Homo sapiens: one gene and its partner. The protein of the gene in region 2 interacts with the protein of the main gene of each other region in a biochemical or structural test. Each region holds a gene or a part of one and is shown on either strand. Other genes may lie near its edges. The genes, in order: ERG and LANCL1.

Region 1 (3,817 bases), on a different chromosome or scaffold from region 2:
TTGCTATAAAGCGTTTTGTGTTTTGATTTTATAACTTCTTGATGAAGCCCTATCTGTGTCCCCCTCAATCCCACTTCCCACTGGGCAATCTCGTTTTATTAAAAAATTATATGGTACATGTTTTATTTTTCAACTTGTATAAAAACCCATAATATATTTTACAGAGCTTTTGGAAAGTAGTATCAAGCAATTATAAGTATTTAGCCTAAGAGTATATGGATTTTATTAATAATTAATCCACATCTCTATTCAAATGCATTTTCCCTCTCTCTCTTTTGACCAAAACTCATGCTGTTAGCTGAGAAAATTCCCTTTTCATAGTTCAGTCCATTTGGAATTTGTTGTCTTGTTCATTGGTTTCTTCCGTGTTTAACAATAGCAAAATTTAATATATTTGGAGCTTTTTTGAAACTTTCACTCAATGGTTAAAGAACTCATAAATAAATGTGAAATTATCAGAAAATGTGCATAGCTCAAAGGTGTTTCCTAAGAAGGGGAAGTAACTTCCTCTAAGTTATCTGTTATTTCTGGCCACAAGGTCACTAATAGGCTGATGTGTGCAACCAAAATTATTGAAAAAGTGTACTACCAACTCGAAGCAGGTTTTTTAAAACTTCAGATTAAAAAGACAATGTGTTGAATATAGAAGACCATGATAAATGAGCAATTTCATTGTAATACTCAAACCGGGACTCACTCACATTTTATATTTTAAAATAAAATGGTAAATATTGGGAAAATTGCGTATTTCTATGTGAGGGCTGATCGTGAGTTAACTGGCTGACTTGCAAGGCTTTCTGGCACTTCCCGTCTCCCTCCCTAGCCCGAGTGATTGTGGAGGGTCCCTGCAGCTAACAGAGTGGGGTGAGCAGCCGGTGGCCATGCTTCCGGAACTCTCTCCATCAGGAAGGAGCAGATGGATGTGAACCAGGAACACATTCATCCACAGAAAACCCAGCCTCTGCTGTGAGCGGGGGGCGAGGGAGGAAGGTTAGCCAGGATGAGGCACGGTGTTAAACCCTACTTAGGCTCAGGCAAAATAAATACATAACTAAGTCAAATGTAGAGGCAACGGTTAGAGATAGAAAACAGGCATTTGGTTAGTGACTAATTTCATATTCTCCAAAATTATAGCAGAGGTTCCCTCTGAACAAAAGCTCTCAAAATGTTACAGAAATTCCCTCCTGCCTTTTGCAAACATACAAAGTCTGTAGGAAAACAAATCAAATAGCCTAAAAGTTTATTGGAAAGGAAAAAGAAAATTCCAACTTATCCTAGCAAATATTTCTTTAAGAATAAAAATGGAAAAAATTAAAGGAGGTTGCTAAGGGCCCTTTTATATCGAACATGCTTTTAGTGTCTACAGAGTCAGCACAGCGAATATATTGGGACCAACAGAAGAAGACTGTAATCCGGCAAATGTGAGCTAAGTTATGGCTAAAGGCAAATTCTGCACGTCTCCTGGTTAAAAAGGAACCCTTTGATAATCAAAGTGGGGTGCTTGGGAAGCGCTCAGAAAACCAAAGGGCTTCACCTTCCTTTAGGCTGTGGTACATTCCTAAGTATCCGAAAGTATTCTGAATCATCTACCTGCGTTCTGTCTTCCTGGCACGCGCTGACTGGTTTCCCATGAAAGCATGCAACCTGTACGTAAGACCCTACGCTCTTGCTGGGAGGCAGGGGCGGGGCCAGCATTACCTGTGTTTCTAGCATGCATTAACCGTGGAGAGTTTTGTAAGGCTTTATCAACATCATCTGAAGTCAAATGTGGAAGAGGAGCTACAAAACAAAACAAAAAGCGACATCAAAATGAAAAAAAAAAGAGAGAGAGAGAAAGAGAATTACCTTTCTTACAAAAAAAAAAAAAAAAAAAGAAAGAAAAAGAAAGAAAGAAAACCGTTCCCCCACTCCCACACTAACATCATGGGAAGCTTATAACTATTTCCAGCAACCTGCTACTTGTTAGCATGTTAAAACCTACATGGGGGCCCGTCTTTAATTCAGGGAAGAAGTGGTTGGGATGCCAGGCAAAGCAATGGAGGAGAATTTATCCACCTCACTGTCTGTCACACTACTTCCTTCTCACCATGCTGGACGTTGTAGAAATTAAAGCATGCAGCAAACATTCTGGATTCATGCCAACATGCCATCCCTTTCTGTCAGGTTAAGCCGAATCACATGATACAAAGTGAAAACTTCCCTTGTTCTGTGCTCAGGTTAGAATATAAAGTGGGGCTTCATGTAGCTTTAGGGAGAATAATCCCCCTAATTCCTACGAAAGAGAAGCCTTAATGATTCTATTTCGATTCGGGGTATCATGGAGACTTAACTAATGTGTGACCAGTTAACGCTTCCTTTCCCCTTTGACATTCCATCTTCTTGGTCGCAGGACCCTGGAGGAGGCAGCTGAGTGTTGAAGTGAATTTTGGCTTCTCCTGAGAGCGCTGACTACTTCTCATCAGGTGATGTGGCCAGGGTGTTGCTCCCCTAAGTCATCACATACCAAGCATGTGGCTCCCTCGGATCCCCAGTGGGAACTGGGCGAGGGCAGGAGGATGCTGTCGACACACCTGGTTGAACCCTCTGAAGCTCAGGTCATAAGAACCATAGCCACAGCCATCTATCCTTGGAGGAAGGGGGAGCTTACTCTCTCTGAGGTAGTGGAGATGTGAGAGAAGGATGTCGGCGTTGTAGCTGGGGGTGAGCCTCTGGAAGTCGTCCTTGGTCATCTTGCACAGTTCCTTCCCATCGATGTTCTGGAATAACAAGATGTTGACGTCTGGAAGGCCATATTCTTTCACCGCCCACTCCAGCCACTGCCGCACATGGTCTGTACTCCATAGCGTAGGATCTGAAAGGGGTGGGAACACATTCAGTCAATTCCTGAAGCCAGGGATCTTCATCTTGGGGTAGATCCCCATCCACGTGGGATTTCTGACCAGCTGCCTTCCACAAGCACAGCCTCCAGCCAGCCTCCCTGGCTACCCAGGAGAACATTTTGGGGGAAAGACAAAAGCTGCCTCACATCCATAGATCATTGTCTTTAAAGTGAATAGTTCTGGAATCTTGGGATTATTCACATCACATGCCCTTGTTTTTGCTCAATCTAAAGTTTCCTGTAGGCATAAGATTTTAAAAATTCTTTTTTCTCATTTATGTTCAATTTTATTTATTTATTTTAAAATGAGTAAGAATAAGAGGAAACTTCTTTTCCTTAGAAAACTACTGGTATATTTATATATATTTATATGGAAATAAGAGTAAGCCACACATATCAGGAAGGTGCTAATTACAGATCACAACAACAACAAAAATAATAATAACAGTATTTATGCAAAATACTGAAAAATACTGACCACAGAATCGGAAATGAAATATAGATACACCAAGACTCTAGCCCCTCCTATGAGCCAGCGTTCCTCATAGAGAGCTGTCAGTTCCAGACTTTTCCTGCAGGGTGTTTGGTTTTGCAATTAACCAGCACCTGCAGGAGTGGGGTTGGTGAGTGGTTTTTGCATTCCACAGCTGGCCATGGCGAGCACAAACACCCCACAGGATGCAGGCCACGTCGTCACACTCCAGTGCTACCTATGGGACAGGGAGAGCAGGGCCCGGGGGAGAAGGAGCAGGTGATCTCCAACAGAAACGCCAGCCGGGATGTCCTGTGGTAAACACCCTCAGTGGTAGGGTCTTCAGAGTGTGGTAAATGGGGCGGCTGCTCCCTTGGGCCCCGAGCCCTGAGAGACACATGGGCAGGGAGTTGGAGCCCTGAGTTCTAATCTCACCATTTCTCCACTTTCTGGACCTTGCTGTGGGC
Region 2 (4,405 bases):
CTTCAATGTTAATACAAAAGGCCTATAAATCTCAGCTAGATAGAAGAGTGCATCTATATTGAGAACACGTCATCTACTGTATATAGATCATATATAATTTATCATCTTGCCTGGCCTTCAAGAGATCAAGAATAATGAGAATCTCTCAGCCTTATGAAGGGAAGTTACTTTCTGTTTGGCACATTCTGCATTTAATAAAGGTGACCTCTGTGAGAATATTGATTGCTTGTGGTACACCACCAAATCATTCAAACTCTAGCTATAATCTGAAGTCTCTAAAAGTCCTTTTTTCTTTTCTATTTTTTTCTGACAGATGCCAGAAAACAGACCAGTTCCTTACTGAAATCTTGTGTTAAGAAATTAAGGAGGACAGATCTCCAGGGTTTGATCCTCCGTGTTCAACATTACACAATTTTAGAACTGGTATGCTACTTCCTTTCTAGGACCTGTCCAAAAACTACGTTAGGCAATAAACTACATTATTACTCTTGGGTCAGGGTTTAAATTTGTGAATTTTTCCCCTTAGAAACAAAGGGTTAAATTTGGCCCGACATGGTGGCTCACACCTGTAATCCCGGCACTTTGGGAGGCTGAGATGGGTGGATCACTTGAGGTCAGGAGTTCGACACCAGCCTGGCCAACATGGTGAAACCCTGCCTCTACTAAAAATACAAAAAAAAAAAAAAATTAGCCAGGTGCGGTGGTGTGCACCTGTAATCCCAGCTACTCAGGAGGCTGGGGCATGAGAGTCACTTGGGCCTGGGAGGCAGAAGTTGCAGTGAGCCAAGACTGTGCCTCTGCACTCCAGCCTGGGCTCAGGGTGAGACTCCGTCTAAAAAAATAAAAATAAAAATAAATAAATAAATAAATAAAGGGTTAAATTCATAAAAAGCATTTACTTTATAGGCAGTCTAAATAGGTACATTTTATTGAAGGTTTCTGTCACTAGGACAATCCTCAACTGTTCTCTTTGCCAAGTCAGTATGAAGCAGCAAGTCCTCCTCCCGCAAGACAAGACACATACTTCAGCTTGAGAATCTGCACAGCTAAGCAGAATGCAGGCCCAAATGGCCAAAGGGAATCCATCTGACCTGAAGATAATTATAAAAAGCTTTGTTTGGGCAGCTTAATACTAGTCTTAAAATAATCAGATTGACTCAAACTCCATATACATTTTGGTAGCCTTCTACCCTACACCTCTTCTTCATCTCTTTGATTCCTCCTACCTGCATTACTGACCCAAGTTAATCTATAATGTGACAAGTGTTTTAAGGAAAAAAACAACCATCAGACCCACAGATTAATTTGACAGGGATGAAATCTGTAAGGCCTTTATATCACATAAAATGTCTTTTGTATGGCTGACAAGTTTCAAAGAAATAAACTGGTAAAATTTTTAAAGCGTGTGCCTTGTTTCCAACTTAACTCATTTTCAAAACTAAATTTTATTTTTTTATTTTTTAGAGACAGGGTCTCTGTCACCCAGGCTAGAGTGCAGTGGTGCAATCATAGCTCACTACAGCCTCGAATCTCCTAGGCTCCAGCAATTCTCCCGCCTCAGCCTCCCAAGTAGCTGGGACTACAAGCTTTCCACCACACCTGGCTAATTTTTAAAAAAATTTTAGTAGAGATAAGGTCCTGCTGTGTTGCACAGGCTGGTCTCAAACTCGTGGCCTTAAGCAATCCTCCTGCCTTGATTTCCCAAAGTGTCGGGATTAATGGTGTGAGCCACTGCACCCAGCCAAAAGTAGGTATTCTTAAAAATATCTGTATTCCCTCTTAACAATTATGTTCACCCAATGAGGCATGAGAAAACACAGGCCCCTAGTATTTTACATCCAGGTTCTCTTTTGCACAGTGATTTGTGACATGCTAACCAGTTTAATTTACAAGTTTCTTTTTTTTTGTTTTCCAGCTGTGGATATGCCCTGTGGAGTGACACCGGTACAAAGAACTTCAGGTTTCCTAGGTCCCCAAATTCTCTAAGCACTAACAGTTTAAAGACGTCCTTACCATACACCACCGTTTGCTCTCATCATTACCCTGAACGCACTTGTGTATAATCACAAAGGAGTAACACGGCACATGTGAATACCGTTAGGATTCTTCACCTCTTTTTAAGAAGCAAACCAAAATACATTAAAAAATGCCAATTACATAGTAAACTACATATTTGCCAATTTTTAAAATTTATACTATCAATAATTGAGTTTATTTCAATTAATAATGTTAACAATGACACATTTAACATTATGTTAGAGCTCAATTTGTATATATTAACATGTATTTTTAAATAATTTACGTATTTATCGTCGAATCATGTATTTTTTTAAAGGGGGATGCTCAACTCTCTCAGGCAAAAATGAGCACCTTTCCGAACACCGTGGGGAGAGGCAGGGATGCAGGCAGACATATCCTAAACTCACCCTCCCGGCAGCATCAAAGTAGCCTTCGGCCAGGGATTTGTTATAATCAGCATAAGGATTCGGGAAGGCCCTTTGAGCCATGACGCCGGAAGCAAGCCTGCAGAACAGGGGAAAAACAGAAACTAGGTTGAGATAGGGGCCTCGGCCGAGTTGCGAGGGCGGCGGCGGCGCCCAGGTATCCCCCTTCCTCCAGCTCCAGGGCCATCGAGCCGTCTCGGCGGTCCGAGTGGACCTCGGGCCCACTGCGGCCCAACTGCTAGGACATGGCGCCTTCGCGAAAAAGCTGCCAGGGCCCTTAACCCACCCGGACAAAGAGGCCCCGTTTTGCAACCCCGTTCCCACGCCCGCGACTTGAAGCAAGTGCGCCTCCCGCGTCCTGAAGCCCTTCTCGGCCCTGGCCTCTCACCCCGCAGCCCCGGACAGTAACAGAAGGGCTATTTTACCGCCCAGTTCCTGCCAGGAGGGCCAATCAGAGCCTTCGCCGTTCCCGAGACCCGCCCCCTTCTCTCTTACAGTTTGTTAAAGACACAGGCGTGTAATTTCTAAAGGATAACGCAGGGTATTTTAATTACTGGGTAGCAGAAGTGAGGACCTAGAATCACGCGGAGATGTGACCAATATTTCCTACCCTTCTTTAATTTTTCTTATTTTTAAAAAGTCAAATTTAAGTCCAGAGTCATAAGAAGTATATATTTTTTTAACCTGGAGAAGAAACAGACTGCTTTTAGATCTGAACATGCTGGTATTTCTGCTGTTCGCAATAGATAAAATTTGGCGGGGGGTGGGGGGATAATGTCTCTCCAGGGACTTGCCAATCTTTTCTTTTCATTTCTTAAAACAAACAAACAAAAAAGCACCACCATCATTAACAACAACAACAACAAAAATATGCCCAAAGGACAGGATATCAAATAGCAGTTGATAATACTTTGGGGAAAGCACATGAAAACACAAATTACAGCTCTTAGGAAATTTATTCTGTTCCTTAGCCTAAATTGGACTATAATACTGGATAACAAAGCTCTAAAAAATACTGAAAACCAACACAGCAGGAGATCCACAACATTCAATTTCAATGTTTTAACAGTCCCTGCTATCTGAAACATTTTTCTTTCATTTAAAATTAAATCCCACCTGGTACATATTAGGCCCATTCTATTGCTCAGAGAATTTTGGAGTTCAGTTAAAAAGTCAGCCTCACTCTCTCCTTTTCCTTCTCTCCGGTTTCAATGAAGAGTCCTAGCTCCAGACCTCCAACTGGAGAAGCTCAGTCTCCACCCCAACTCCCTCCCTCCTTGGCCTAAGTTTGTCCTTCTGAGGCTGCCATCCCAAACTCTACTCCTAATCCCTCCCCACACCCAGGTTTGCTCTTTTAAAATAGTTGCTTTCTTAGGAAATGTAGTTGCTTTCTTAACCTCATCAAATTCATGAAGATTTAGCCGAGGCCCATGGTGAGTCTTAAGCTGGATATCTCTCATGTTTTAAAAGATGGGTGTTTGAAGGAGCAACTCACAAGAGAGAAAAGGAAAACGAGAGACATTTTATCAATTATTTTTTCTTTAATGATTAAAGGCTATCCATTTATCCCACTCACAGTCTTTAAGCAATTAAATATTACTGTTGTTAAGCAAGGCAGGATGGTAATTGTATATTTTCATAGTATGCCTCTATCTTATTTTACTAATCCTTTCCCCTAATGATGGACATTGTTTCTAACTTCCATACTACAAATAATATTCTTGGAACATGTGCTTTTATGAATCTGTGTGAGTATCCCTGAGACATACACCCAGCAGTCAATTGCTGGATCATATGAGATTCTGTACTTAATTTCCCCAATGTTGTTAGATTGCTTTCCAAAACTGCTGGACTAGTTTATATTCCCTCTAACAGTATCTATTGTTCACTCCAAGAGTATTCACTCCAACATATCAATTGTTTCTGTCATTTCCATCTCCTCTCCAACACTTGGTATTATC

What was found.
Region 1: the proteins of LANCL1 (region 2) and ERG form a complex in vitro, tested with the Homo sapiens proteins (one large-scale study listed by BioGRID).

Annotation. Positions count from the first base shown.
Region 1 is NC_000021.9:38,400,859-38,404,675, forward strand, and holds part of ERG (transcriptional regulator ERG), read right to left. Parts: intron 2,852-3,817; coding exon 2,648-2,851; intron 1,780-2,647; coding exon 1,699-1,779; intron 1-1,698. UniProt on the Homo sapiens protein: Transcriptional regulator. May participate in transcriptional regulation through the recruitment of SETDB1 histone methyltransferase and subsequent modification of local chromatin structure.
Region 2 is NC_000002.12:210,473,890-210,478,294, forward strand, and holds the start of LANCL1 (glutathione S-transferase LANCL1), read right to left. Parts: upstream 2,871-4,405; 5' UTR 2,731-2,870; intron 2,524-2,730; coding exon of another isoform or gene 2,508-2,523; coding exon 2,427-2,507; intron 1-2,426. UniProt on the Homo sapiens protein: Functions as a glutathione transferase. Catalyzes conjugation of the glutathione (GSH) to artificial substrates 1-chloro-2,4-dinitrobenzene (CDNB) and p-nitrophenyl acetate.